Linked DNA regions of Homo sapiens: regions 1, 2 and 3 are each reported to be linked to region 4. Evidence: microRNA targets listed by miRTarBase, many of them from high-throughput screens and not tested one by one. Region 4 holds a microRNA gene; each other region holds the end of a gene's coding sequence.
The links. The annotated mature microRNA hsa-miR-2113 reads AUUUGUGCUUGGCUCUGUCAC and lies in region 4 at 2,879-2,899, opposite strand. An mRNA with a match to its seed (bases 2 to 7 or 8) in the 3' UTR can be bound and repressed. Matches are read on the target gene's strand: a 7mer-m8 pairs with bases 2 to 8, a 7mer-A1 pairs with bases 2 to 7 and ends in A, and an 8mer does both.

Region 1 (7,232 bases), not on the chromosome of region 4:
CAAACTTTGAAATGGATCAAACCAGAATTCCTTCTTCAGTCCCAGTTGCCTGATTCTAACTTTCTTCATCCGGTATTATTTTCTCTCTGTTAACAGGACTTGGTGGCACAAAATACATCTCCTTTGAGGAACGGCAGTGGCATAACGACTGCTTTAACTGTAAGAAGTGCTCCCTCTCACTGGTGGGGCGTGGCTTCCTCACAGAGAGGGACGACATCCTGTGCCCCGACTGTGGGAAAGACATCTGAATTCAACACAGAGAAGTTGCTGCTTGTGATCTCACACACAGATTTTTATGTTTTCTTTCTCACCCAGGCAATCTTGCCTTCTGGTTTCTTCCAGCCACATTGAGACTTTCTTCTAGTGCTTTTCAGTGATACTCACGTTTGCTTAAACCCTTTAGTGCTTTGTGATAGTTCAGTCCCAGGGAAAGAGAAAACTCGCCCTAGGCCCTAGGTGGGAAGATGGTTTGAAATTTTTGTAATCGAGTAAGGCACACCCAAATGTAAAAATCCTTTTGAATGATGCCTTTATAAATCTTTCTCTCACTGTCTATTTAAGTGCAATTAACATATGTCACGAACTTGAAAGTTTTCTAAACTCAATAAGGTAATGACCAGTTGTTATTTACAGCTCTGTAACCTCCCGTTGCGTCAAGTCTAAACCAAGATTATGTGACTTGCAATAAAGTTATTCAGAACAGAATCTTTTGCCAGGCACAGAGTGTGAAATCATGATTACAGGTCGAGGCACTGAGTCTAAGTAACACTTTATTGCATGGTCCCATGGTCACTGTATGAAGTGCAGTTCCAATGTTCCAATGGCCTGGGGCATTGCCAACTGGAACAGCATCACACCCTTTAAAGGAAGCCTTCGGCTGGGCACGGTGGCTCACGCCTGTAATCCCAGCACTTTGGGAGGCCAAGGCGGGTGGATCATGAGGTCAGGAGATCAAGACCATCCTGGCTAACATGGTGAAACCCCGTCTCTACGAAAAATACAAAAAATTAGCCGGGTGTGGTGGTGAGCGCCTGTAGTCCCAGCTACTCGGGAGGCTGAGGCAGGAGAATGGCATGAACCCGGGAGGCAGAGCTTGCAGTGAGCTGAGATGGCACCACTGAACTCCAGCCTGGAAGACAAAGAGACTCCGTCTCAAAAAAAAAAAGCCTTCAGTCAGCACCAGGCACCTCTTCCTTGCTACCTTCTCTCCCTTTTTTTTTTTTTTTTTTGAGACAGAGTCTCGCTCTGTCGCCCAGGCTAAAGTGCAATGGCACAATCTCAGCTCACTGCAACCTCCACTTCCCGCGTTCAAGCGATTCTCCTGCCCTCAGCCTCCTGAGTAGCTGGGATTACAGGCACCCACCATTATGCCCGGCTAATTTTTGTATTTTTAGTAGAGATGGGGTTTCACCATGTTAGGCTGGTCTTGAACTCCTGACCTCAGGTGATCCACCTGCCTCGGTCCCCCAAAGTGCTGGGATTATAGGCATGAGCCACCGCACCCAGCTACCTTCTCTGTCTTTCCCATACTCTTTCTCTTGGAATGTAATCCTCTGCATTTGACACAGTAACATAAACTGACAGTGAAGCCAATTTTCAGGTCATTTTTCTTGGCAGAGCTTATCGGCTCTGTCCCAGTGTTATGGATCCACATCTTACACCGACTTCCATAAAGTGAAAGATTGCACAAGGACATAAGCAACTTGAGGCCAGAGACGACATCCTGTTCATCTTTATGTTCTCAACACCCTCGCAACTGAGGGCACACTGGGAGCCTTCAGTGTTTCTGAAAAGGGCAGTAAAGCAGGAGAGACACACAGTCATTACAGTAAAAATAACATTCTGAGCTACTAGTGTGGCAGTAGTCTGTGGAATAATCTCAGATAGCAGTATACAGTTGGGAAGCACGGAGCCAATGTATGGGATAGAACATTGCACAGTTCTCTTTAGAATGGGAGCATCAGTGACCTTTTTGTCCTTAGTTTTCTAAGACAATGCAATATAATAAAATGATAGGCTGAGCAACAGAAAAATTTGGTGGAAATCAAGTCTGATATATGCTGAGCATATGTGAAATCAGTTTCTTAATCTGAGTGTTAGTCACTGTTAGAATGTTTGATAATGTCTGGAATGAGTCTTTTGGTTTTATAGTTGACTTGAGGTTTTGCTTAAAAAGAATAATTTCATCCTTTGTTAGTTGTTTTGCTGTTTTCTACTTCATAATATAAAAGTAAAAGCACTCCAAATTTCATTTTGGAACATCTTACTTGTTCCTCATTAAAACCATAGACTCTCCCAACCTTAAATTACCCATTCTAAAATTAATGGTTAGGGGGAATTCCACTTCTAGTAAATAGCTCCAATTGGACTAATTCTCCTCCAAATTAACAGTCATTCTGGACAAAATATTTATTTAATTGTTAAGAACACTGGAGCACGATCCAAAGCAGGCAGATATTGGAGGGCAGTAGACACTTGGAAGAAGAGAACGACACTGGGTGATTTTCCTGTTTCGGCCTTTTATCCAATGGCAGGCCCCCGCCAGGGATCTAAAACTCTGTTAGGAAACCTGCAGTCTTACTGGCCTGAGGAACCAGAGGCCAGAGTTCGGGACAAACAGCCTCTGGAAAGTGAGGAAGAAAATCCTGAAAAGGAGAGCCCCAAGTTCGTCGCATGAACTTAGAAATTTCTGGCTGACAACTGAACCGTGTATACTTAGGCCAGACTCCAAGCAGCCCAGCCAAGGCTAAAAGCATTGACTGACAGGACTTTACAGATAGTGGTTTGCAGGGCTTAGCTGACCGACCCTCTTCCTACTGAAGGAAATTACTTGTATATAAACCACACAACACAAAGTCTCTGAAAATTTCCCCAGAAGCATACAACAAATAAACATTCATTCAGGAAAATCCACTACTAAGTCTTAGAAAGAACAGTGAGTCTGTGGCATTTGAGCCACAGCCTCATCCTATCCCATCCCCACTCCCCAGCTTCATGTGACAAACTCTATTCTGGACCAATGCAGCCAAAAATTAAGGGGTCTCTCTTCCTCCAGCTACCAGTCTAGGGCTTTGCCCCAGGTGCGACAGGCTGAGAATCGTAGAGCTCCAATTGCCCCTACCCTAGCCTGCTTAGTGCGGAGGCTCCACATTGGGAGGGGCAATCTGAGAAGACCAGCGGCTATCAACCCACTCACAGAGAAGGGATGTCAGTCCTGGAGAAGCAGGCTGCTGTCCAGCCCCCAGAGGAGATCCAGGCTCTGAGACTGGTAACCCAGCAGTTATGCCCAAGGGGACTGGTATTTGGTACGGAGAACGAGAAATCTTTGCCTAAGGGGATTGTCAAAAACAATAAGACATCTTACCAGTGAGCCATTAAGGAAGGGGCTGGTAACTCCATGCTATTAGTAGCAAAAAGCAAAATGACAGACCAGCCAGAAGTTTAACACAGAAAACCAGAGAAAGAGATAGCCAAGAAGAGCCCTCCTGGAATCTGGTTTATCCTTGAGGTTCGGGAAGTATGTATGGACAGGGCTGTATCCACTCAGGAGCAATCAGATGTGAAACAAACTTGAAAGCATTCTCTAAGGCATACACAGATCCATCAGCAAAGAGCAGAAATCTTATTAGCTCAAAGTGCTTAAGCAGAACCTCTGACCAAACACTGGCTGAACACATAAATGTGTTTGTTCAAAGAACTAAAGGAAATCATATTTAAAAAAGGAAGGTAAAGGAACAATTACAGTTGTTCCTCCATATCCATGGATTCCTCATCTGTGGATTCAACCAACTGTGGATCAAAAGTATTTAGGAAAAAAAAAAAAAAGTTGACACAGTTCCAAAAAGCAAAACTTGGATCTTCCACATGCTGAGTACTATGTTGAATCCATGCAAATGAAGTGATGTGTAAGCATTGTATTAGGTATTATTATAAGTAATCTAGAGATTTATTTAAAGTATACAGAATGATGTGAATAGGTTATATGCAAATTCTATGCCATTTTATATGAGACTTGAGCATCCATGGAGTTTGGTATTTGTAGGGGGTCCTGGAATTAATCCCCCACAGATACCAAGAGATGACTTTACTCACCAAACAAACCAATAAAGAGATAAAAATTATTTTTAATAAATCAAATGGAATTCTGAAGTTGAAAAGTATACTAAATGAAATGAAAAATTCACTAGAGGGGCTCAGTAGTAGATTTGAGTTAGGAGAAGAAAACCAGTGAACTTGAAGACGGAACAACAGAAATTATACAATCTGAAAAACAGAAAAAAGAGTGAAGAGAAATTAAAAGAGCCTCAGAGAAATGTGAGAAACCATTAAGCATACCAACATATGTGTAATGGAAGGACTAGAAGGCTAGGAGAGAGAAAAAAAGAACAGGAGAAAATATTTTTTCAGAGTTCATGACTAGTCAGGTGCAGTGGCATGCGCCTGTTGTCCCAGCTACTCAGGAGGCTGAGGTGAGAGAATTGCTTGAGTCTAGGAGTTTGAGGCTGCAGTGTGAGAAAACAGCACCTGTGAACAGCCACTGCACTCCAGCCTGTACAACATAGTGAGACCTTCTTAAAAAAGAAAAAGAAAAAAAGAGTTAATGGTTGAAAAAGGCCCCAAATTTGATGAAAAATATTAATCTACATATTCAAGAAGCTCAATAAACTCAAAGTAAGATAAATGCAGAGACCATACCCAGACACATTACATTCAAAATGCTGAATGCCAAAGATAATGAGAAAACTCTGGCTAGATGTAAAATAATATAGCTATATAATTAAGACTTTTTATTAAATTGGGAAATTAAACATACATATACAAAAGTACACAAAGCAAATGTCAACAGGCAAAACTAAACCAATGAGATGTTGGAATATTCTGTATCAGGGGTTGTAAACTATGGTCCCTGGGCTAAATTCTGCCCACTGCCTGTTTTCTTTCCTATTTTATTTTTTTGAGACAGGATCTCGCTCTGTTTCCCAGGCTGGAGTGCAGTGGCATGATCACAGCTCACTGTAACCTTGAACTTCTGGGCTCAAGTGATCTTCCCACCTCAGCCTCTCAAGTAGCTAGGGCTACAGGCACGCACCACCATGCCTGGCTGTGTGTGTGTGCCTGTGTGTTTTGTTGTTGTCATTTTGAGACAGAGTTTTGCTCTGTCGCCCAGGCTGTAGTGCAGTGGCATGATCCTGGCTCACTGTAACCTCCGCCTCCTAGGTTCAAGTGATTCTCCTGCCTCAGCCTCCTGAGTAGCTGGGATTACAGGCGCCTGCCACCACGCCCAGCTCATTTTTGTATTTCTAGTAGAGACAGGGTTTCACCACGTTGGCCAGGCTCGTCTTGAACTCCTGACCTCAGGTGATCCACCCATCTCGACCTCCCAAAAGTGCTGGGATTACAGGTGTGAGCCACAACACCTGGCTGATGTCTATTTTTAAAATTTTTTTTGTAGAGATGAGGTCTCACTATGTTGCCTAGGCTGGTCTCAAACTCCTGGGCTCAAGCGATTCCCCCCATCTTGGCATTCCAAAACGCTGGGATTACCAGCATGAGTCATCACACCTGGTCTGTTTTCTTAACAAAAAAGTTTTATTCAAACACAGCCATGTATGTTCATTTACGCATTGGTTTGCTGGCAATTTTTTACTATCTGGACCTTTACAGAAAAACCTGCCACCTGTGCTGTACTGTGTATCTTGATCTGGGTAGTGATACACACACACACACACACACACACACACACACACACACACACACACAAAATTTTTTCTCCTGAGCTATATAACTTAGAACTTTTCTAACTTTACAGCATTTTATTGTAACTCAGTAAAAATTTTAAAAGTTTAAAATATGTTACACTTTGAACTTGAGTGCACTTGAGTACACTCTGAGTTACTTTAAAGCTTGTCTTTTTTTTCATTAAACAGCAAGCCAACTTGTTTGATCTTTACTTGATTATTACAATATGTGAAACCTTTGGGGGTCAGTCTCTACTGCCTGATGTTTCTGTTGCAGCCCACACTGGGTCCACTGTTTTCTTGTATGCAAGGATAACTCTGACTTGTGTTAATCACTACCTTTAAAAAGTTATCCGGGGTGTTTCTTGAGACTTAGAATAAGGATGTCTTCCTGCAGAGACGATTGTCATTGTCTTTACCAGACACATGGGCTACCACCAGACTAGAACTACTTCCCAGTCATTTCCAGAGTTACTTTCACCTTCCTGGGGATGTAAATCTTAGCTACAAGTCTGTATGAGAGTCGGCTTGCCTGCCTCCACCCCACTGTGTCCCCTTTCCCTTTCCTATTCTTCCTTCCTTCTTTTCCTTCTTTTTCTTCCCTCCCTCCATGCATGAAAAGGAAAGATGTATTTCTAATTCACACTTATATGTGGTGGTGTTTTTTGAGGTCATACCTATTAGGTTCCCCTCTTGGAACACTCAGAGATTTGACTTCTCTCTCCCTTACATTACAGTCACCTAAACTACAGCTGAGTTTCAACAGAGCATCAAACAAGATTGCCTGCTTCTCTGGGTTCTTGCTGTCTCTTAGCCTGTCAGCTCTTCTGTGCTTTTATGTTTGAAAAACCCATGTTTTTTCCCAGCAGAATTGCTCCTTCCATTTAACAGCAAGCATTTTTCTCTGTTTAGCAAATGAAAAACCTAATTATAAATATTGTATTAGTTACCTCTACTTTGTTACACATTCTACAATGTTAAGATTTACGTTGATCACATCTATTTCATTGGCTTAAGGTTTAATTTAAATGCACAACTACCTTGTAGAATAAATTACATACTTAAACTTTGTGATAATATTTAATATTTAGGATATTATAAAATTCTTTTTTAATTTTTTTTTTTTGAGATGGAGTTTTGCTGTTGTCGCCCAGGCTGGAGTGCAATGGTGCGATCAGGGCTCACTGCAACCTCTGCCTCCAGGGTTCAGTTGAGTCTTTTGCTTCAGCCTCCCGAATAGCTGGGATTACAGGCACCTGCTACCATTCCTGGCTGACCTTTTGTATTTTCAATAGTGACGGGGTTTCACCATGTTGGCCAGGCTGGTCTCGAACTCCTGACCTCAAGTTACCAGCCCACCTCGGCCTCCCACAGTGCTGGGATTACAGGCGTGAGCCACCACACCTGGCCAGGGTATAATAAAATGCTTAATAGAACTAGTCTACCCTCAACCGGAACAATGAAAATTTAGTCACTGAAGTAAGTCAAAGAAAC
Region 2 (7,949 bases), not on the chromosome of region 4:
TGTGTCCAGATTTGGGTCTCTGAGTCTCTGGGAAGCGACCTCACCCCACAGCCCCGAGCCCCAACTTGAGGGTCACAGAGCTCGGCAGGCAGGCTTTTCCCACCCCCTGACTCTCAGCCCCATGGGGCCTGGGGCAGCCGTCAACTGCGCCTTCTCCCCTCCTCCGCCCCCAACCTTAGAGCCCCCCACCCCACTGCTTCCTGCTCTAGCGGCCCCCGGGGAAGAGGGAGCAGGGAGCTGGCAGCCGCCCCAGCCCACTCCTTACAAGGCCTGAGCCCGGCCCCAGGCCCGCCCCCGGCCCGCCCGCAGGAGGCCCCAGGCCCTCCCCCTGTCAAGAGCTGCCGCCAGCCCGGGGCCGGACCAGTCCGGGGGCATCGCGATGCTGCTGCGCCTGTTGCTGGCCTGGGCGGCCGCAGGGCCCACACTGGGCCAGGACCCCTGGGCTGCTGAGCCCCGTGCCGCCTGCGGCCCCAGCAGCTGCTACGCTCTCTTCCCACGGCGCCGCACCTTCCTGGAGGCCTGGCGGGCCTGCCGCGAGCTGGGGGGCGACCTGGCCACTCCTCGGACCCCCGAGGAGGCCCAGCGTGTGGACAGCCTGGTGGGTGCGGGCCCAGCCAGCCGGCTGCTGTGGATCGGGCTGCAGCGGCAGGCCCGGCAATGCCAGCTGCAGCGCCCACTGCGCGGCTTCACGTGGACCACAGGGGACCAGGACACGGCTTTCACCAACTGGGCCCAGCCAGCCTCTGGAGGCCCCTGCCCGGCCCAGCGCTGTGTGGCCCTGGAGGCAAGTGGCGAGCACCGCTGGCTGGAGGGCTCGTGCACGCTGGCTGTCGACGGCTACCTGTGCCAGTTTGGCTTCGAGGGCGCCTGCCCGGCGCTGCAAGATGAGGCGGGCCAGGCCGGCCCAGCCGTGTATACCACGCCCTTCCACCTGGTCTCCACAGAGTTTGAGTGGCTGCCCTTCGGCTCTGTGGCCGCTGTGCAGTGCCAGGCTGGCAGGGGAGCCTCTCTGCTCTGCGTGAAGCAGCCTGAGGGAGGTGTGGGCTGGTCACGGGCTGGGCCCCTGTGCCTGGGGACTGGCTGCAGCCCTGACAACGGGGGCTGCGAACACGAATGTGTGGAGGAGGTGGATGGTCACGTGTCCTGCCGCTGCACTGAGGGCTTCCGGCTGGCAGCAGACGGGCGCAGTTGCGAGGACCCCTGTGCCCAGGCTCCGTGCGAGCAGCAGTGTGAGCCCGGTGGGCCACAAGGCTACAGCTGCCACTGTCGCCTGGGTTTCCGGCCAGCGGAGGATGATCCGCACCGCTGTGTGGACACAGATGAGTGCCAGATTGCCGGTGTGTGCCAGCAGATGTGTGTCAACTACGTTGGTGGCTTCGAGTGTTATTGTAGCGAGGGACATGAGCTGGAGGCTGATGGCATCAGCTGCAGCCCTGCAGGGGCCATGGGTGCCCAGGCTTCCCAGGACCTCGGAGATGAGTTGCTGGATGACGGGGAGGATGAGGAAGATGAAGACGAGGCCTGGAAGGCCTTCAACGGTGGCTGGACGGAGATGCCTGGGATCCTGTGGATGGAGCCTACGCAGCCGCCTGACTTTGCCCTGGCCTATAGACCGAGCTTCCCAGAGGACAGAGAGCCACAGATACCCTACCCGGAGCCCACCTGGCCACCCCCGCTCAGTGCCCCCAGGGTCCCCTACCACTCCTCAGTGCTCTCCGTCACCCGGCCTGTGGTGGTCTCTGCCACGCATCCCACACTGCCTTCTGCCCACCAGCCTCCTGTGATCCCTGCCACACACCCAGCTTTGTCCCGTGACCACCAGATCCCCGTGATCGCAGCCAACTATCCAGATCTGCCTTCTGCCTACCAACCCGGTATTCTCTCTGTCTCTCATTCAGCACAGCCTCCTGCCCACCAGCCCCCTATGATCTCAACCAAATATCCGGAGCTCTTCCCTGCCCACCAGTCCCCCATGTTTCCAGACACCCGGGTCGCTGGCACCCAGACCACCACTCATTTGCCTGGAATCCCACCTAACCATGCCCCTCTGGTCACCACCCTCGGTGCCCAGCTACCCCCTCAAGCCCCAGATGCCCTTGTCCTCAGAACCCAGGCCACCCAGCTTCCCATTATCCCAACTGCCCAGCCCTCTCTGACCACCACCTCCAGGTCCCCTGTGTCTCCTGCCCATCAAATCTCTGTGCCTGCTGCCACCCAGCCCGCAGCCCTCCCCACCCTCCTGCCCTCTCAGAGCCCCACTAACCAGACCTCACCCATCAGCCCTACACATCCCCATTCCAAAGCCCCCCAAATCCCAAGGGAAGATGGCCCCAGTCCCAAGTTGGCCCTGTGGCTGCCCTCACCAGCTCCCACAGCAGCCCCAACAGCCCTGGGGGAGGCTGGTCTTGCCGAGCACAGCCAGAGGGATGACCGGTGGCTGCTGGTGGCACTCCTGGTGCCAACGTGTGTCTTTTTGGTGGTCCTGCTTGCACTGGGCATCGTGTACTGCACCCGCTGTGGCCCCCATGCACCCAACAAGCGCATCACTGACTGCTATCGCTGGGTCATCCATGCTGGGAGCAAGAGCCCAACAGAACCCATGCCCCCCAGGGGCAGCCTCACAGGGGTGCAGACCTGCAGAACCAGCGTGTGATGGGGTGCAGACCCCCCTCATGGAGTATGGGGCGCTGGACACATGGCCGGGGCTGCACCAGGGACCCATGGGGGCTGCCCAGCTGGACAGATGGCTTCCTGCTCCCCAGGCCCAGCCAGGGTCCTCTCTCAACCACTAGACTTGGCTCTCAGGAACTCTGCTTCCTGGCCCAGCGCTCGTGACCAAGGATACACCAAAGCCCTTAAGACCTCAGGGGGCGGGTGCTGGGGTCTTCTCCAATAAATGGGGTGTCAACCTTACCCAAGGCTTCTGACCCCCACTGGTGCTTAAGGGAGGTTCTGGGAGGACTCAGCAAAAAGGAGGGGATCTTCCTTCAGTTTGTCTGAGTCCTCAAAGAGATAAGGTAAGATCCCTTTAAGGGAGGGTATGCCTCAGAGATTCTCAGGGAAGCAGGAGCCCAGAGAGGGCAGAGCCTTGCCCAAGGTCACACAGTTGAGCCCAGCAGTGGGAGGTTTGGCATGGGGAGAATTTCATATTTATTCCTTATTTTACCAAAGCTCCAAGAAGGTGGGGCTGAATCTGGGGGACGGTTGTGGAATTAGGGCATCTGCTGAACCGGACTGGGGTTTAGGGGTCAAAGTAGGCTCTGGGGCTGGTGATTCAGAGGAGTGAAGGAGGGGTCTAGTGGGTGAGTTGCTCCTTTCTTCAGACACTTCCCTTCCCATCCCTGTAAGCTTCGCGGAAGTTGGGGGCTGGGGCTCAGGGTAACTCAAGGGGACTGCCAACCCCTGGTTTGTGGGTGCTCTTGGAGGCATTCCTCCGCTTGCTCCGGGGAGGAGGCTGGGATGGGAAAGGCCGGGAACCTGGGAGAGATCCCATGCTAACTGCTTGGACAGCCGCAGGAGCAAGGCCTCCTTTTGCCAGGGCCGCACGTTGCTCTTGTCCATGTTGGCTGGGGGTGGTGGGGGACAGACAGAGCTCAGCAGACCTGAGCTTGAGCGAGGGCTCCGGCTGCTCAGGACTGAAGTGTCCCAGGAACTGGAGGGCCTGGTCAAAGATCACAGCCTGGTGGGAGTGACCTCCCTCATTTCGTGCTCACTGCCTTGGGGGGCGGGGGTGAGACCTGGGGAGGGGAGGCGCCAGTTCCCACCGCCTCTGTAATTTTTCAGTTACAGCCTCTTGGGGGCCTCTAATTAGGACGGGGCAGAGCCGCCACGACCACCCGGGCAGGCGAGGAGGAGTGGCCCAGCGCCCCCTTCGGGCCTGGACCTGAGCTGGAAGGCTGAGCTGGGCCCCAGGGAACCAGGAAAGGAGGGGCCGGAGCTGGGGATGAACCAGGGGGTCGCGGAGGGGGCGGAGGGAACGCTACGCACCGCCCCCGGTCCCCGCTCTCACGTTCCCCTAACTCAAACCAGACGTCCCCGCCAGATCCTGCACAGCTTTAACCTCGGAGACGCCGTCGGGCAGGTTTGCTGGATGCCAATGAGGGTTGCGAGGCGGCCCAGACGGCTGAGTCTGGGAAGGAGGTGAGGAAGCCTGGGGAGCGACAAGGCCTGCAGAGACGGGATGGTCTGGAGTCCCCTCCGTGACCTCGGGTAGGGATCTAGAGCGCCTCGAGGGCAGGAAACAGTTAAATACACTGCAGTCGGAGGCGGGGGATGGGAGTGGGGAAGGGGGCCCAGAGCCGGCTCTTTGTCATCTGGTAATGAGCACCAGATGCGGAGCTGCGTGCGGGCCTAAACAGACGGCCTCCCAGGGCAGAGCCCCGGCCTGCGCCCAGCCCGGGCTCAGCCCACTTACTCGCAGGCCCCGCCTCATTCGGGCGCGGCGGCGAACTGCATACTCCAGCGGTATCAGCCCGGACCTGGGAGCTACGAGCCACGCCTACTCGCTGCAGAACAGAAGAGAGCCCCCGGGAGCTCTCCAGAGGCCCCGCCCACAAAGCCACAAGCCCCGCCCCTGCCAACTCAAAGATTCCAGCAGCGATTGTGCCCGCCCCCTGCCCTCTTGGCCCCGCCCAGTCCCCCGCCCACAACCTACAAGCCCCACCTCCTCCGCTCGGCGCGCGCAGATTGGCGGAACTATTAGTCTCGGCTTCTAGGAGGTATGAACTTCGCCCCGAGTTTACACATTCTCTTCACGCGGCGCTACAGGCCCCGCCCAACACAACTGCAAGCTTCGCCTCACAGAGCCCTGGACACTGCAGGGAATCCCTCAGAGGTCTTAACTCTGTTGGGGGATGATGTAAACTCCGCCCTCCAGGGAAACGTGTGAAGTTCCCCTCAACCTCCTCTTCAGGCTCCGTCCCCAGCTACAAGCTCCGCCCCCTCTCAAGCTCACAAAAGTGGAAGAACTGCGCCCTCGTAGGACTGTCACACCTCACACATCGAGCGGAGGTAGCGGTTCACCTACACGGAGCCCCGCCCCCGGGGCCGCCCACGAAAGATGCAAGCCACGCCCCTGGGGGCCCTGGAGTCCCGCCCACCCAGAGCGCCCTGGCTGCGGCGTAGCGCACAAATACGGCTCTGCGAAGAGCGCTACCGAGCGAGCCTCTTATCGCACGCCCCGCCCACACTCAGGCTCACCCTCTTGGCGCAAGCACCGCCCACTCCACCCCTGGGTCCCTTACCACCTTCGCGATATGCCCAGATCCACCAGTCCTCCGAACCCCTCATCTCTCACCACGATGCCCTTGAACCTGGCCCTGGAGCCCTCTTCTTCCTCCACCTACGGTTTCCGTTTGTCCAGATTTCGGGTTCTCTGGGCGAGCCCGGAGACTGGGCCCGGACAGCCGGGCAGATGGCGTCGATGGGCCTTTGGCGCCACCTGGCCTCGGCCCCACGGACTTACAGCCACCGCGAGGCCTCGGTAGGGCCTCTCTCTCAAAGCGTACTAATTGCTCAGTAAATAGAAATAGCTGCTTAATTCGTTAAATGTTAGTGTTACTTAAATATCTGCCGACTCCCCCCACGGGACAGCCCATCCTTTCGCAGATGCCTTTCGTCGTATGTGGAAATTCGTCCCTAAGGGAGCTTCGCACTGGCCCTCGAGCCACCCTATGAGCTGAGCGCCCCTGACAATCTCTAAAGTGGCTGGCTGGTCGAACTCTTGCTGTCTCTCCCCGACAAATCCTTTCGCCTGGAGGGCGAAAGCATCGCCTCTCATCTGGCGGCCTAGAATTCCTAGGACCAGGTTTCCCCCGCCCCCACCTAGTGCTCCAAAGGCTAGACACCTTCCCTGGGGGCTGTGTTGCGAAGGGGTGGGTTTGGGCGGGGAAGCCCTCAATTAGGAGCTGAAGGTCGTAGTTTTTAGGGACAGTGTCTCAAGGGAGACCCTATCTCAGCTCTCATCTCTACCTCTGAAAATAACAGCCTGGAGGGCAGGAGACGCTGAAGTTCAGGGCTAGGAACCCAGTAAAATATTTTTCAAACATTAGTGGGACAGACAGGGAGCAACCCTTGAGGAGGAAGGGAGTTGACACCACTGAGCTCCAGTTGGGCCCTTTGCTTCCTGCCTTAGCTGCCAACCTTGCCCTTACCCACCTCCGGGCAAATCAGGCCTGGGGAGAGGGATACTTTCCAGACCAGGTTCCAATGCTCGTGCACTAGCCATTACAAATGTAAATAGGGTTTAGCGCTAAATACTGACGATAATAATAGTGAATGCTTGAAGCACTTCTGTTTTGTTTTTGTTTTTGTTTTTTGTTTTTGTTTTTGTTTTTTCGAGACGGAGTTTCTCTCTTGTTGCTCAGGCTGGAGTGCAATAGCGCCATCTCGGCTCACTGCAACCTCCGCCTCCCAGGTTCAAGCGATTCTCCTGCCGCAGCCTCCCAAGTAGCTGGGATTACAGGCACCCACAACCACGCCCGGCTAATTTTTGTATTTTTAATACAGACGGGGTTTCACTATGTTGGTCAGGCTGGTTTCGAACTCTTCGCCTCAGGTGATCCACCCACCTCAGCCTCCCGAAGTGCTGGGATTACAGGCATGAGCCACCATGCCCAGCCTTGAAGCACTTCTTACATGCCCGGTCCTTTTTTAAGGGCTTTACTTGGCTTAATCCATGTAAGATTCATAACAACCTCCAAGAAGTAAGTGCCGTTCTTACCACAATTTACAGAGTAGGAAGCTGAAGGCACTTGCCTAACTGCATTAAGCCATCTGCCCTAGTTGACCAACTAGTAAGTGGGGGTTTGAACCCAGGCAGATCCTGTGATCTTTACCCCCTACAGCAAAGCCAGTCCATATGTGATAGCCAAGTCTCTAATCAGAAAATGCCCACACCTGGCCAGACGCGGTGACTCACGCCTGTAATCCCAGCACTTCGGGAGGCTGAGGCGTGGGGAATGACTTAAGGTCAGGAGTTCGAGGCCAGCCTGGCCAACATGGCGAAACCATGTCTCTACTAAAAATACAAAAATTAGCCAGGCATGGTGAGGGTACCTGTAATCCCAGCTACTCAGGAGGCTGAGGCAGGAGAATCGCTTGAACCCAGAAGGTGGAGGTTGCAGTGAGCTGCACTCCAGCCTGGGTGACGAGTGAAACTCTGTTTAAAAAAAGAAAAGAAAAGAAAATGCCCACACCCTGGGAAACTCACTTTTAAGGGTGAGGCTGCAAGACGCAGACTCTCAGAGAGGCTGACGGCACTGAGATTGACCAGAGAGATTGAAGCCTTCTTCCCCCAAGGAGAGTTTGTCGTCTGTGGCTTTGGCAGGTGATGCTGGTAAATAAAGCATTTGCTGGGATCGTGGGATCTGGACCATGTGCCCAGGCGAGGTGCGGCCTTGGGGCATCTGTTGGCTCATGTGTTAGCCTGGTTTCAGTGAGTCCAGTGATTTTTCTGGGAGGCCAACTAGCACAGTGGTAAGAGCTAGCACTCTGCATCAGCCTTGTTTGCATGCCAGCTCCACTGCTTAATGGCTGGGGGAGCTCAGGGACATTCCTTTATTGCTCTATGTTTGCCTCCTCATTTGAAAAGCAGAGATACTATAGAGGAGGAAGGATTCTATATGAGGAAAACTAAGGTTTCCTGCTTGAAGCCTATGAGTATCTTCAGGATGGTGCAGGAAGCTGCTATCAAAGACACCATCTGCTTTAGCTGGCTCTGGGGATCCCTGAAGACAGAGTCCAGAAACTGATCACGGGGAGAGCTGAATCAGCAGAAACTGACGTCTGAAGCCCACCACATCCCTGAGGTAGAGGCTTCGAACACTCTCCTTCACTTGTCTTGGGTGTCTCAGTAATTTTTTCCTGACACCATTGGCCAAAAAATACCTAACAATTTCATTTCATAAATAGGTCCAACAACATAGTAATTTTTTCATGACACTATCGAA
Region 3 (7,949 bases), not on the chromosome of region 4:
CAAAAATTAGCCAGATGTGGTGGTGCATGCCTGTAGTCCCAGCTACTCAGGAGGCTGAGGTGGGAGAATTGCTTGAACCTGGGAGGTGGGGGTTGCAGTGAGCCATGAGCACTGCAGTGAGCTGGAGAGCACTGCACTCCAGTCTGAGGGACAGAGTGAGACTCTGTCTCCAAAAAAAAAAAAGCATTCTGACAACAAAATATATCTAAGAAAAGTGACATAAAATGCTGGAGACATGTTTTTTCCATATATAACAAAGGATTAGTATCAAGTATATACATAAAAAGGATTCTGCAAGTAAGAAATAAGAAAACAGTTCAACCGGAAAGTCAGCAAAATATATGACTAGGTGGATCTTAGAAGAGGAAATATATGTGGGCAATACACATGTGAAAAGATGTGTAACTTCGCTAGAAATTCGGGAAACACAAAATGAAATAATATTGAGGTAACTTTTTTGTCCATAAAATTATAAAAAATTTAAGTAATTGAGAATGGTGTTAAGTAGGGAGTAAGTTTTGTCATACACTGTTGGGAGTAAATTGGTACAACCACTTTGGAGGGCAATTTGAGAATACCAATTATAATTTTAAATGTATATATCCCTTAGCAATTTTTTCATATCTCTTTTTAAAAATTACTTGCATATATTCAAGAAAAGGCATCCAGAAGGATTTGTATTGCAGCATGATTTATACTAATGAAAAATTGGAAACAGCCTAAATATTAACACGGAAGTGATTAGCTAAACAGTGGTACATTCATATTGAGGCATTCCTTGTAAGCAATTCAAAATAGTTACATATGCTATAGAAAAGTCAAGACATTGTTAAATGGTTTTTAAATGTTTCAAATTAATGCTTGCAAAATGATGTGATCTGGGTAAAAAAAAATAAAAAATCTACAAAGCATCATGAATCTAAAACATTTGTTGCTCAAGAGTAATGTAGTAGTTTAAAATTGGTCTGTTTTTGCAACCAAACACATTTGACCTATTGATGGAACTTTTATTTTCCACAGGTGAGAAGCCTCTTCCTCTTAAAACAGCATTGCAAAAAAAGAGGAGTTACGGCAATGCATTTCATCATCCCAGTGCTGTACGATTACAAGAGAGTGATTCTTTAGCCACCAGCATTGATCCAAAAGAAGATCACAATTACAGTGCAAGTAGCATGGCAGCACAGCGTTGTGCATCCAGGTCTAGCGTGTCTTCCCTGTCTTCTGTGGATGAGGTATATGAATTTATCCCAAAGAATAGTCACGTGGGAAGTGATGGCAGTGAAGGATTTCACAGTGAAGAAGATACAGACGTTGATTATGAAGATGATCCTCTTGGAGACAGTGGCTATGCATCACAGCCTTGTGCAAAAATCTCTGAAAAAGGGCAGTCAGGCAAAAAGATGCGAAAACAGACATGTCAAGAAATTGATGAGGAGCTCAAAGAGGCAGCTGGATCTCTGCTCCACCTTGCTGGAATTCGTACATGTTTAGGTTCCCTAATAAGTACTGCAAAGACACAAAATCAAAAGCAACGGAAAAAATAGAAATACTTAAAGTGTGGCAATACTCTTTCACTTAATTCTTTACAAGGGATATCAAAGCCATAATGGACTTCATTAGTTTTAGGGTAGGGAAGGGATACTAATTACTTATTTCTTTCAAAACATTTTTGGTTTTTGGTTTTTAAAATTTTTATTAAACAATTGCTGTTAGGATCATGCCTGATCAGAAATACATGATGTGAAGTCCTAAAAGCATAATTTTTGTGATAAATGTGTCCAAGATTTGAAAATTTTTATATAAGAAAATCCCCAGCCTCTGTCTTAAACTTGTGGGACAAAAATCCTTTCTTCTGTTAATATGTCAGAATGTAAGATTTGGCAACTCGATAAATTTTTTTCATTTTCTTTTCCAATCTGTAACTATAGTTACTGAACCAGCTAAAAATTTTGCTGATGTATTTTTCATATACTTCTCTCCTGACACGCAATCCGGTAACATAAGATTGAAATTTTTTTACTTTGTCTTAATTTGTTTCTAATTTTTTTTTTGTTGTCGTGTGAGCAAAGACAAACATAAATTGAAAAACATCCTGATGTTTAGAAAGTTTCTTTTGGTTACGTAGGTAGAGAATACAACAAAGAGTTCTAAGACTTAGAAAAGACAATTTTGTGGTGTCATTTCATCCAAGAACACTCCCAATTCCTATTAGAATGGTAGCTTTGAAGTGTTTTTACTTCAGAGATCCTGCATAGCATTTATTGGGGCCTTTTATTCTTTCCCAAAGTGCTTTGCAAACATTAAGTTTTAGCCACTAGCTGCCTTTGTTGAGTATAAGTTATCCAGTGAGAGGATATAGCCAATTAAGTGTGTTATGGAGTACACCCATTTTGACACACTTGTAATAAGAGAATCTTTCATTTGCCTGCCATGTGTACTGTATTATGAGAATCTTATAATCGGAATGGAGTGAAATGAAACATTTTGAGTACTGATGGCATGTTATCATACATAAAGTAGGTCATTTAGGAAAAAACTTCTGTCCAAGCTTTGTATGAATTAAATTCATAAGTATACCAAATTAAATCTTAATAGATTTAATGCAATTTTACAGACACAATACCTTCATGAATTTCAAAATTCATATAAAATTTGATCTTATGCAATACACCTTTTTGAGGAGGCAGTGTAACAACCTATAGTGCCATTGATCCATGAGAAAAAGATTTTCTGGTACTACTCCAAAAGTGCTTTGACTAAGTATCTTAACTATTTGAACAGTCTGCTTATATGAGACAGTTTTTCATAGTATCATTTGTATAATTTGATTAGATTATTCAGAAACAATAGGATGCTAAACTAATTCATTGTATCTTTTTTTTACAATGGTGGAAGCAACTTTCTGAAAGTTCAGTCTTATGCTACATCCTAAGTCATAGACAATGACCTTGTTTTCATTATTCTGATAGATTGTATACATATGTACACATACATATACACATATGCACAGTCAAGGTCATGATGTTGATTTGCTTTCAGCTGTTTCTGTGATTATAAAGCATTTTTTAAGAGACAAATTTTAACTTTTAATTTTTATTTTGGCAAAACTGTCAAATGAGAAAAATGATTTTAAAAACTTTTTTTTCAATTGACAAGACTTTAAGTCAGGGATAACAGTATTAATGTTCTCTGTTCTGTTTCCATGTTAAATTTAATTTAACCTGGATAGCCACATTAATGAATTGGTGCTGTCAAAATATAGTAATTTTTAAATTTGTTAATAATGAAAACCCTTAAGCATGCAGGATGAGGTATTTGGGTTTTTTTTTTAGATCGATCACATCTACAGAAAATGGCTAAACCAAGTTAACTTTTATTATAGACAGTGAATAAAACACCAAAAACCCAAAAATGCTTTAACCACAGTATAAATAATAGATTATACACATCATCTTAATAACTATTTTTAAGTTATTTACCATAGCCTCTGTATAGACCTTAGGAACAGTGTTTCAGTGATCTGGCACCAGTTTATTTTGTTCTGCTGAAATTCTGTATCACAAATGTGCTACCTGGTTTTTGTCCATTAGATAATTACTCTTTATAAGGAAAGGAAAGAGAAGCAGAGTTAGTTCCAGCTCTAATAGGGATCTTCAAAGTTATTTTGTCTTGATGTATGTAACAGTAATTCTTTACATCTTTTGATTTTTCTCTTCCTTTTTATTCACTCTTCCCACGAATTTAAATGTTTAAGTTATATTCATCACTAGCAAGGATGATAAACACTTGTGCACTGAAAGCTAACAGGGAGAGGTTACACAATATTTTACAGTTTCTTAAACATAATTTAATGCATCACCTTCCACTTGCTAACATACCAAGTCAGTTATTTTCAAGGGAAGAACCTTTTAAATTATGGTCCTCCATTTACTACTTCCACTGAGAGTATGCTCTCATTCCTCAGGTGTTTTGAGAAACATGACTAATAACCACACAATTAAGTAGAGTCATTCCAAGTCCTATGGCCTGGAAATTGTATTCCCTATAATATACAAATTTTCCTGTAATAAAGTCAACTTAGAAACTCCAAGGAGGTTACATGTTTTCCAACATATCCTAAAAACTGTGATATAAGCTAACATATAATTTGCCTTACGTCAAAAGAATATGTTTTGTTGCAGCTGATTCCAGTTTATAATAGATCCCTAGTAAAAAGCTTTGATTCAACACAATTGTTCATCTTCACATCCCAAACAGAATCACTGTTTCTTGAATATATATTTTTGAAGTTTTTTTGTGCAATATATTACTAAATCAGTTATTATTTTACTTTTCCAAATTCAGAGAAAGAAAACAGATTACCTGAATTCATGGAAAAGGTGGATCACCTCCCTTTTTCCACCTTCAAGCCTTTCCTGTCCTCATAGCCAGCATGACTTCTTTTAACTTGGATTCCTTTGTATATAGTAAAGTTTAGTATATATATATTTTTTTCTTTTTGCTACTTTCTGAGGCATTATGTAAAGGGCTCATACTAGATGTTCAGTTAAATATACTTTAGCACAAAGTCAAACTAGAGAATGTGTTAAGGAGGGAATGTATATGTCTTGGTAGACCAGGAGGCCTTTGCCAGCAATTTAAGCAACAGATGTGAATACTTCACAAAGCTGTAAAGACCATTGTCTTAAATACTACAACAACTTAACACCCTTTTGTGAAGATCACAGCATTTATCTAAGAAACTGTGAGGCTTTCTGGTTTACATATATCTTACAGGTGTTTTTTTGTATTTTTTTTTTTTTTTAGTTTGAAATGTGTAAGCTTTGATTTAAACCAAGTTTACTTCAGTATGTTAATGATGTAGTAAAAATATTTATTGAAAGGTGAATTCGAGTATTTTAATGTTATACCTGCCATTTTTTTTCTTAAAGCATATTCTTTGCATCTAACTGCCAGTGCCATTGTCAAAACTTATTTTTTAAATCGTTGTACATTTCTTATTAAACTAAGTGCTTAATTTTAAAGTATTATGTTGCCATCATATAGTGTATAAAAATGTATAATTGCCAATTGATTGTAACTATTATTTATTTTTAAATGAAAGTGTAAGAATGCTTTCTGATTCAACAAATTTGTTATCAAACTGTTTCCTTATCCTCTTTTCTGATGTAGCATAAAAATTGTCCCGGTTTGAGTTATAACTGCCAGTAGATGACCAGTCACAAGTGAACCACTTCTCAGTTGCCAATCTTTGCTCATATTAAAAACAACTTACAAATACTTAGTTTTTGTATCTAATCTCTGATTATTAAAATGTTTATAAAGTTTATTTTTACCAAAGAGATGCAATTCATTATGAGAAAGTATTGCATAATAAATTTTGTTTTATAACTTTTTTTGTGCTTTCTCTGATCTTTTGTAGGATAGGGTGGGACAGGAGAAGGATGGTAGGGCAGATGTGATGGCTATACTTCTACACACACTTTCCATTCAAATTGGAGTCAAGGAAATGAAAAATGCAGTTTAATTTCAATTTTTTTAAAAGTATTTTTTATGGTTTTTAGATGTTAATTACTGAAAGCTAAAATGACATTAATTAAATTACTATCTTCCTAAAGTTAAACTTCTTTTCCTATTAATTTACATGTATCTGAAATATTTTGAAATATAACTGGGAAAAATGGAGTAGAATATGAAACGAGCCTGGCCAACATAATGAAACCCCGTCTCTACTAAAAATACGAAAATTAGCCAGGTATAGTGGCGAACGCCTGTAATCCCATCTACCCAGGAGGCTGAGGGATGAGAAATGCTTGAACCCAGGAGGCGGAGGTTGCAGTGACCTGAGATCCCACCACTGCACTCCAGCCTACACAACGGAGTGAGACTGCATCTCAAAAAAAAAAAAAAAAAAAAAAAAAAAAAAAAAAGTCATCAAGAGCTTTATGCCAATAAGTTCAACAACTTCGGTGAATTAAAATGCAACAATAAGAAAACCCAATCTAAAAATGGGCTAAATACCTGAACGGACACCTCACCAGAAAAGATAAACAGATCACACTCATTGATATTTACCCAAATGAGTTGAAAACATGTCTAAACAAAAACCTGCACACAATTGTTACAGCAGCGTTGTTCATAATTGCCAAAACTTGGAAGCAAATAAGATGTCTGTCAGTAGGCAAATGTATAAACTGGTACATCCAGACAGCAGACTATTATACAGCAATTTTTTTTAAAAGCTATCGACATCCCAAAGAAGATATACAAATGGCCAAAAAGAACATGAAAATATCCTCGACATCACTAATTACTAGGGAAATGCAAATAAAAATCACAATGAGATACCACCTCGTATCCATTAGAATGGCTACTATTAAAAGGTTAAAAACGCCACCAAAACTAAGTGACGAGTGTTGGCAAGGATTGGAACACTTGTGCAGCCACTATGGAAAGCAGTATGGAATTCAAAATAGTGCAGTCACTGAAAAGCAGTATGGAAGTTCCTCAAGAAATTAAAAATAGACCAGCAGATTTACTTCTGGGCACATACCCAAAAGAATTGAAAGCAGGTTCTCAAAGAGGTGTTTGTCTACCCATGTTTAGAGCAGCATTATTCACAATAGCCAAAAGGTGGAAGGTTCACAAATGTTCATCGATAGATGAATGAATAAAATATGGCACATGCAGACAATGGATTATTATTTCACCTCAAAAGGGAAGGGAATTTTGACGCAAGCTACAACATGGATGAAACTTGAGGACGTTATTCTGAGTGAAATAAGCCAGTCAGAAAAAGAAGGATACTGTATGGTACTTACAGTAGTCAAACTGATAGAGACAGAAAGTAGAAAGATGTTTGCCAGGGGCTGGAAGAAGAGGGGAATGAGAAGTTGTTTAATGGGCATGGAATTTGTGTTTTGCAAAATGAAAGAGTTCTAGAGATTGTTTTCACAACAGTGTGAATGTACTTAACACTATTGAACTGTACACACAAAAATAGTAAATGTTATATATATTTTACCACAAATAAGAAAAACAAAAAAATGAGATATCAAGCTATGATGGAAATTTAAACACATATTACTAAGTGAAAGAAGCCAATCTTTGACTTAGTTGAAAGGTTCACTTACTGAGCCTTAGAAGGCTCATTTCTGTGATTCCAACTACGATCTTGTATCGCTTAGCAACAGGAATACCTTCTGAGAAAAGTATCAGGCTGTTTTCTTACTGTGGGAACATCATAGGGTGTACTTACACAAACTTAGATGGTATGGCCTACGACACAACTAGACTATATAGTAGATAGCCTATAGCTCAGGCTACAAATCTATGCAACATGTTACTGTCCCAAATACTGTAGACAGTGGTAATGCAATGGTATTTGTGTATCTTAACCATATCTAAACATAGAAAAGGTACAGTAAAAACACAGTATAAAAGATAAAAAATGCTACACCTGTATAGGGCACTTACCATGAATGGAGCTTGCAGGACTGGAAGTTGCTCTGGGTGAGTCAGTGAGTGTGAGTGGTGAGTGAATGTGAAGGCCTAGGACATTACTGTACACTACTGTAGACTTTTTAAACACTGTACTCTTAGGCTATACTAAATTCATTTTAAAATTTTTTCTTCAACAATAAACATTAGCTTACTGTAACTTTATAAACTTTAATTTTTTTTAACTTTTTGACTCTTTTGTAATAACACAGCTTAAAACACAAACACGTTGTACAGCTGTACCAAAATATTTATTCTTCATATCTTATAAGCTTTGTTCTATTCAAATTTTTCTTTTTACTTTTTAAACATTTTTCTTAAAAACTAAGACACAAACACACACATTATCCTAGGCCCACACAGGGTCAAGATCATCAGTATTACTGTCTTCCACCTCCACATCTTGTCCCACTGGAAGGTCTTCAGGGGCAAAAATATGTATGGCGCTA
Region 4 (7,949 bases):
TTTCAGATTTTCATTGGAACTACAAGATACCACCAATATTTCCATTGTTGTATTCTCACCAATTCAATGTTTTAAGGAAGAAAAATTATGATATGAGAAATTAGTATATAACTCACAAAGGGCAATGTATCAAGTTAATTTTATAAAATCAAACGAATTGTGTGAATTATTGTTTCTAAAAATAAGCAATATTAGAATGATAAAGAAAGTGTTGTATGAGGCTTGAAGATAGGAATAGCTTTCATCGCTCCTTCAGGGACATCCTACTTCTATGACCACCATTAACTCTTCAAGCCTCTATTTCTTCATCTGTAAAATGTCAAACATTTGTTGAGTGTTGAGCACCAACAGTGTGCTTTGTATTGCTAAATTAACTTATACTAAGCATATAATCTCATATAATTTTATGACAAGCATATGGGGTTGATATTATTTCCATTTTATATGTAAGGAAACTGAAGCTCGGAAATTATTCAAATCACTTAACTAAAGATGCACAGCTAGCCACTATGTATGGCAGAGGCAGAATTCAAACCCAATTTGTCAGAGGTAAAGCAAATTTGGTTTCTATATTTTCTATTCCAGAAGTAGTGGTAAGAATTAAATAAAGTGATAGATGTCAAATCCCCTGATATAACACATATAACACTGGATTTGCTCTACAAATGTCCCTTTCTTTCTCATTTTCTTCTCTGCTCATGGAATAATGGAATTGCATCAAATAAAGAATGAGGGTTGGGCGTGGTGGCTCACACCTATGATCCCAGCACTTTGGGAGGCCAAAGTCGGTGGATTGCTTGAGCCCAGGAGTTTGAGACTGGCAACAGGGTGAAAGCCCACCTCTACAAAAAATACAAAAATTAGCCAGGTGTGGTGGCACACACCTGTTGTCCCAGCCTCTTGAGAGTCTGAGGTGGAAGGACTGATTGAGCTCATGAGGTTGAGGCCGCAGTGAGCCATGATCGCACCATGGCACTCCAGCCTGGGCGAAACAGCAAGACTGTCTCCAAAAAACAAAACAAAACAAAAAATTCCAAAAGCCAAAACCCAAATCAAAAAAAAGAATGAGAAGATCTGGGTTCCAGAAAGGTTTTTAGTATCAAGTGGGGATAATGAGACCATGACTACGAAGGAGCTTTAAAATTTCAAAAGCCCTTACAAATGTAAATTTTTGTTACTCATTAAATGAACAATCACTACAGTATGCACTTGCTTGTGTGGCATTCTCAGATTTTGGTTCCAAAGAGATAAGTGACATTTTATGTTGAGGGCTCAACTCTACATACATCTGTTTAAACCCATCTCTAAGGGAAAAAAAAACCAAAAACAAAAAAACAAACAAAAAAAAACACTTGAATTTCAAAAACATATTATTTATTATTTTGACTTTTTTCTTTGCTAACACAGGTAAAATGACTAAAGTCTAAATTAATTGATTCTAGCCAGGTGGTCTCTGAATTCCTTCCAGAGAGTCAAGTCTATGTATTCAATGACATTACGGAGCTGAATACCATAAGAAACTATCCTGTCTCTCACAGTTTGTCTCTAACTTTCAAAAAATTTCTGTAATTTGAACTTGAGCTATCTGGTCCTTGAGTTTGGATATGGACATTCAGAGAAATATACAGAAATTCAAAGGCCATTGCTCTGTTTTCTGGTTAGTTTTATCTGACTCAGTAGCATCTTTTCTCTTTAACATACACACACACACACACACACACACACACACACACACACACACATTTATGATCAAAGAAATGCCAAAAAGTATGCAGATGTAATATAAGCCAATCATCTAAATGTTTAAAAAATATACAGATGTTAGATTTAATGTAGATAAACCATCTGGCAGATCTGCTTTGTTTTTTACTTTTTATCCAGCTGTTGGATTCTGTGGAAGGACAGCCTAGGTCTATACTTAGATGCGCAAAGAAAATGATGTCAGATGTATATTGCTAGTCCTCTGGAAAACACTTCCTATTCAATAGGTTGTAGGCACCATTAGTGTTCTTGAGAGAGAAAAACAGAAATTCCATAGAGAAATGATTTTTATTTGGAACTGCCTACATTAGAACACATTTCATGGACTATGTTTTTTCATTAATGCATCCTCTTAAAATAATATAGAAATTTAAAGTAAGAATATAATTCCTACTAGCAAAATTTCCATATTCACTTTGACAGCAAGTTAATAAATATTTACTTCCAGGGAGCAAATCATCTTTGGCAGGGTGAAAAAGAGTGCTGCATCAAACCAGGACCAACTTAGAGACCAGAAGATGTTCTACCAAATACTTGTGTCCCTCTTCTAATATCAGCAAACTCACATGTGATGAGGCACCAAAATAAGAAACAGAGGTGGCCCATCAGTCTTTAGGATTGAAATTTGTTTTGAGTCCATTTTATAAAAGTTAAAGACCTCTAGGCTTAATAATTGGGTTTTCAAAAATTCACAACTAAAAAGAAAAACCTCTTTTTCTTTCCAGATAGTGTATATTCTTTTTCCTTAAAAAAACCTAACTACATATTAAAAGGAAAAACTAACCAACATAATAAATGTTACTTCTCTCCTCAATTTCTGTGATTTTTTTTTTACATATTCGGAAGTCATAAGAGGTAAACAAATCTCCTATAATGAAGCAGTTGATGGCCAGTGAAAATGAATGGATGCAGCAAATATTTTGTTAACAATAACATAGCCACAAAATCATAGTACATATACAAAACTCTTAAAAATTATTAAAGGATGCCATGAGATAAAGCAGGAGAAAAAAAACACTGGTGAACAAAAACAATCAGATGCTCTGGAAAGAGTAAGGAGAAAAAGATGGGCATGAAAATTTATAGACAGTTTGAGGGTAGGTTTTCAAAGTGGCATGTGACAGAGCCAAGCACAAATCCTCTTACTTATTAACGGGATTTGTCCCTGTACCTGTCACACATTGCTTTGAAAATATCTGCCTCTGTGAAAGGTATACTGCTTCTCTCCGTCAGTTTTACTCTTAAGAGACTAATGTATAATCTCTTTAGGTTTCATCTTTTGTATTTCTGTGCATATGACAAATTGTTTTGAACACTCTTCATCCATACACATAAGAAAGTAGGCACTAAGGGCTTATCACTGCATATTTAAAAATCCCTGAGATACTATTTTCCTCATTGGAAATAATTGTTCTATTAAAATAATCTCTGGATTTATCACTGAAGAATTTTCAACTAATGCATTCATGTCTTGATGCCGTGAGGCAATTGTTCTCAACTTTATCTGATCCAGTTCCTCCTTTTTATAACAAATACTTTGTAACCCGTTTACTATAACAAAATGAAATTCATAGATATTATAACCACTTCAAGAATATCATAGAAAAAGTCAATACAATGCCCCAACTATAAAATAAAAGAAATAAAAAGAAACAACTTTGTAATATTAATAAAATAGTATATATTTTGAAATGTAAATATTCTAGCACTGCCACATAATGAAGACATGAAGTCAAGTGCTGATACATGTGCACAGAATCATGATAAATTTGCAAAGGCATCAGCCACTAATGCAAACTAAAGTAAGATTGTTGTATTGATGCAGCAAACACCATAGAGTTGCCATCAATGAACAACAATTGGTAAACTTCGAAATAACAATTTCCAATTAATTTATGAGAGAGTTTGATTTCTGAAAAGTTCATTACATATTAAACAATGTAAAAAATCTTCTAATTCCATGTAAATGAAAATAAAATCAAAGTGTGGATAATATTACATAGGTTTTTCAACCACATGAATGTCTGATAGGATACTCAAAAGTTCTGTGAGCATAGGAGAGTTTTTCAATGAGAGCCTCCCGCAAGCAAGCTGCAAATGTCTATCATCCCTTGACTCCACCCAGGAGTCAGTGGTGGCCCTGGCTCCACACCATGCAATTTTTATAAAAACCTAATACATCCCTGCAAGTTTCCAAGGTTTTCTTTAGGGTGTGATACTCCTCCCACTCCGTGAGAATCACTGTGATAAGATTACAAAGAAGGAGAATTATAACAAATAATGGTACCTGTACCTTTTTGTTTTTATTTCGTTTTCCCTTTACTAAAGTGAGGCAGAGCTTCACTTTAAAAAATCCATCATGCAACTGACATTGAATTTACATATTTGTGGCAGCAACACTCAAAAGAGTCTTCTCATCATAACTTTTAGTTAAAAATAAATGAACTTAGCACATGTATTAGGAACATTTGAGTGAAACTTACTTAATGGAGTATCACACATGATATGTTTGACTACTTAACTTTAAAATAGAAGAATAGACTTTTTCTTAGGAATTACATTCTATACACATAAACCATTTATCCAGACATGCACAAAAAAATATAATTTGTAAAGCAGAGGAAAAAAGGAGATGCAGAAGGAATATGGGAAAGAAAAGAAATAATGGTGAAAGCTGTTGTTTCAACGGAAAAATAACTTTGCACATGACATGATATGATGCTAGATTTATTATTCCATTTATCCATTTATCCTTAAAACAAACCAACCATAGACATTTACCTTAGAAATATAAAGTTGCTTATTTCTGTGCATACAGTTTTACAGAACCATGGATTGATGGTTTCGTAAGGTATCAGTCACACTTCCATAGCATTTGCTGATATAAATATAAAACCTTCATTTTAAAGGATAAATAAAGCCACACTATTATCTAAACAGGGTAAAATTTAACATCCTTGTGGTTTGTGGAAATTTTTGATGTGCCTGCTGGCTTTTCAATAAAAATCAATTATGCCTTAAATGCGAGCGGTAGTCAACATACTACAGACTATAAATTCAATTTCATACTCAGAAATATGGATTAGCTGAACTTGATGCCCTTCCATTGATTTCAGAAAGCAAAAGCTGATAAGGTAAATAATAGTAAGAGGCTCTCTGACACTCCACATCAAGTTCCGGATTTCCATATTATTTTTGTAGAATTCTGCAGTCACCACAATATCCTCCTTGTGAAATATGTATGATGAATAGATATTATATGGATTGCTGATTCATCTCCCCATACAGAATGGATATTTGGCTTTCATAAGTCAAGACAAGAACTGCACAGAAAAAAGAATATGCTTATTTCTCTAGGCTTACTGCAAGGTGTATGTCAACCGATCGTGAACAAATCCAGTGGGTAATTAGAACACACGGATTAAGCACTGAGATCCCACCTATAAATAAAAATTGTATAAACCAGGAGCAAATTGATATGCTTCAATTCTTTAATGTTTTATATGTGTGTGTATGTATGTGTATTTAGGTATGTATGTTTTTACATATATGAGATGGGGAGGGAGGGAGAGAGACAGAAAAATAAGAAAAGCATTTTTAAAAACTGAAAAACATCCAGTCTTTATGTTCATTCAAAAGAGCACCTTAAATTGGCAAGAATCTCATGGGGGAATCTTGAGAGGAGAGGAGAGGAAATAATTTGGTACTAAGGAATCTAAGGAATAATGATCATGAGGAAGAAATTTAGAGTAGTTTTTAGCATAATGGGAAATCCAATCACATCTGCAACAATTTTCTCCTTTTCTCCTTTAATGTGCAGAACATTTAGGTTTTATAGAACTGTTCAAGTCCACACTTTGAGCATTTTATGGCTTAGCCATTCTCTTTTTCAGTAAGCCTGGTGTGCTCAGCTTAAATCCTAAAGAGTTCTATAGAATATTTCATACACAGGCCCAGTCTCACCTTCCATCAAAACGAGTTCCTGCTTTCCTAACACAAACAAGGATTGCTTTGTCACACATCCAGAATGCCAACAGAGCAAAAGTATGACTCTTATTAGGTCAAAGATGTACATTCTTAAAAGTTCCCTGCAGCTTTCCTAGATGCCAGCATTTTGGAGATTTCATATAATCATTTTGGTAAAATCCATGGCCTAAGGTCTCTGCTATCTCAAAGAAATTAATTACACATGAATTTCTCAAGACAGAGGTAATTGACTTAAATACATTTATAGGTTATTTATTTCACTGAAGTATACTTATTTTTATTAAAGTATGCTAATCATGAAAGCAAGCTGGATAAAATCTTATAAATACCAAATGGGACACATCCTAAGGAAAATATTTCCAATGGTAAGTAATTTTTATATATTCATCCTTATAGTGTCTGTTAATCACTACAATCGTTTTTGAGAAAAGTGGTAACAGAGTTGTTGTGGATTCTTTTCACAAATAAGAAATTGTTTATATAAGAAAAACATAAAATCACAATAGGAATGGTACAATCTGATTTGTTGCCTTTTCAGTTATTTACTTGTCTGAGAAAAAAGTCAACAAGCATTTCTTTTCTGCAAATCTTAGAAATCTGTGTGCATGTATGTTTGTTTATGAATATACTTCTTTTCATAAGAGGGAATATAAGAGCAAACACATTTTCACCAATGTCTTTTCAATCTTACTTAAATTTAGTAAACAATATATATAGAAATTTTATTTTTCTTATACCAGTATACACTCAAACATCTGTAAAACATAAAGTTTCTCATAAATATGTACTATGTAAATTATAAAATTTTAAGTTTCAGTGTTTGAAATGAACGCTATCTTTGAAACCCATGTAATACAAAAATGCCACAACCAACAATTTTCATCATATGTTGTAACGGTGAATGAAGCCTATGAGGAAAAAGGCATCACACTGTTTATGAAAAAACAATTCTTGTAGATACACTTGGAAAACTGCAAACATTCATAAACAGTTACTCTTTGGGGATAGAGAAAAACTGCCATTAAACAGGTGTTAGAATTTAAATGACATCTCATTAGTGACTCCTTTTTGCAGCTCAGAGACAAATAAAACCTTCATTTAAAAGCATTAGTGCTATTCCTTAGGGTTTCTGGTATCATAATGTTTTGTTTTATGAAGATATTTAGTTTCTTCCAGCATTCTTGCTTATTTATACAAAATAAACCAATTGCATTTCTAAGTTTAGCTGAGTGTGAATTCAGGGGGTGAATAAGGCCCTTCCAATTGCTGTAAATACCCTTGCCCCTCCCTCCATTTCGGTGAGTCTGGGAGGTTGAAGCACAGCCTGATAAACAAAGGCATTTTTGAGCTTCACTTCCAGGCAGAGATTTAGCCCTTGCGTCCTTTGCCCTCAATTAAGGAACAGTCATATAAAACTCAGATTTTCTTGATGTCAGAGCCATTAACTATTTTTCCAATTGCTCTCAATGCAAAATGTGAAGCCATCTCTATAATTCAAGAATTATACCAGAGCATATAGCTATTAAAAATTACCTGCTAATTGAGTTTATCCCACTGCCACTATAGACTATCCTCACATAGACAACTTCAGATCCCAAAATGTGAACCCCAAGATTAGCACACAGAATGCAAGTCTCAATAGACAACCCAGGATTATAAGAATTCATTCATCTCATCATTTTGAAAAGTGACACACTCCAAAATTTAATTCAGCTGTCCGAGATCCTTGGAATTCAATTCATTGTAATTCTATACTGTATTTGGAGAAGTATCTACTAAGACAAACAGTGAAGAAACAATAAATTTCAAGTAGTTGCTTGCCATCAAATATGATAATTATTTTTCAGCACGACTGAGGAATTGCACTGATATGTTTTGGAAATACAAAGATAATTAGAACAGATCTGGCTCAACAAGAGCTTAAAAATGGAGCAAAGTTGGTGGTGAAAGAAGGGATAAGACAATCTACAAAGTTAGTGAAAAAAGAAGGTGTAAGACAATTGCCATATATCTATAATATTATTAGGACTATTGAACAGTTAGAAAATGCAAGGGGATGACATTCACAGAAGAAAAGATGACGCTGTATTCAGAGAGTCAGAAAAGGGGGTGGCACTTTAAATGGATTTTATGGGTGGGGATGATTTCATGAAAAGGGTAGGCCTGTGAAAATACAGGTTCTGTTCAAGGAATTTTTCAGG

Region 1: miRTarBase lists FHL2 as a target of hsa-miR-2113. The part of its 3' UTR that is shown has no 7-base or 8-base seed match.
Region 2: the mRNA of CD248 is a reported target of hsa-miR-2113. The part of its 3' UTR that is shown has no 7-base or 8-base seed match.
Region 3: the mRNA of FOXN2 is a reported target of hsa-miR-2113. Seed matches in the 3' UTR shown: 7mer-m8 at 4,561-4,567.

What each region holds. Positions count from the first base shown.
Region 1 is chr2:105,354,299-105,361,530 of GRCh38, reverse strand. It overlaps FHL2 (four and a half LIM domains 2), which reads left to right. Exons shown (of 7, transcript NM_001318895.3): 7 at 97-705. The coding sequence ends at 248. It also overlaps a transcript of C2orf49 not described here. Among named protein-coding and RNA genes, the nearest start is that of C2orf49, 20 kb to the right of the region's middle.
Region 2 is chr11:66,309,458-66,317,406 of GRCh38, reverse strand. CD248 (CD248 molecule) reads left to right here and starts at 363. Exons shown (of 1, transcript NM_020404.3): 1 at 363-2,913. The coding sequence starts at 380. The coding sequence ends at 2,653. RefSeq lists silencers at 165-434, 4,957-5,206 and an enhancer at 918-1,614.
Region 3 is chr2:48,373,900-48,381,848 of GRCh38, forward strand. It overlaps FOXN2 (forkhead box N2), which reads left to right. Exons shown (of 7, transcript NM_002158.4): 7 at 1,021-5,396. The coding sequence ends at 1,544. Among named protein-coding and RNA genes, the nearest start is that of PPP1R21, 63 kb to the right of the region's middle.
Region 4 is chr6:98,019,536-98,027,484 of GRCh38, reverse strand. It overlaps MIR2113 (microRNA 2113), which reads right to left and starts at 2,954; the gene lies at 2,864-2,954.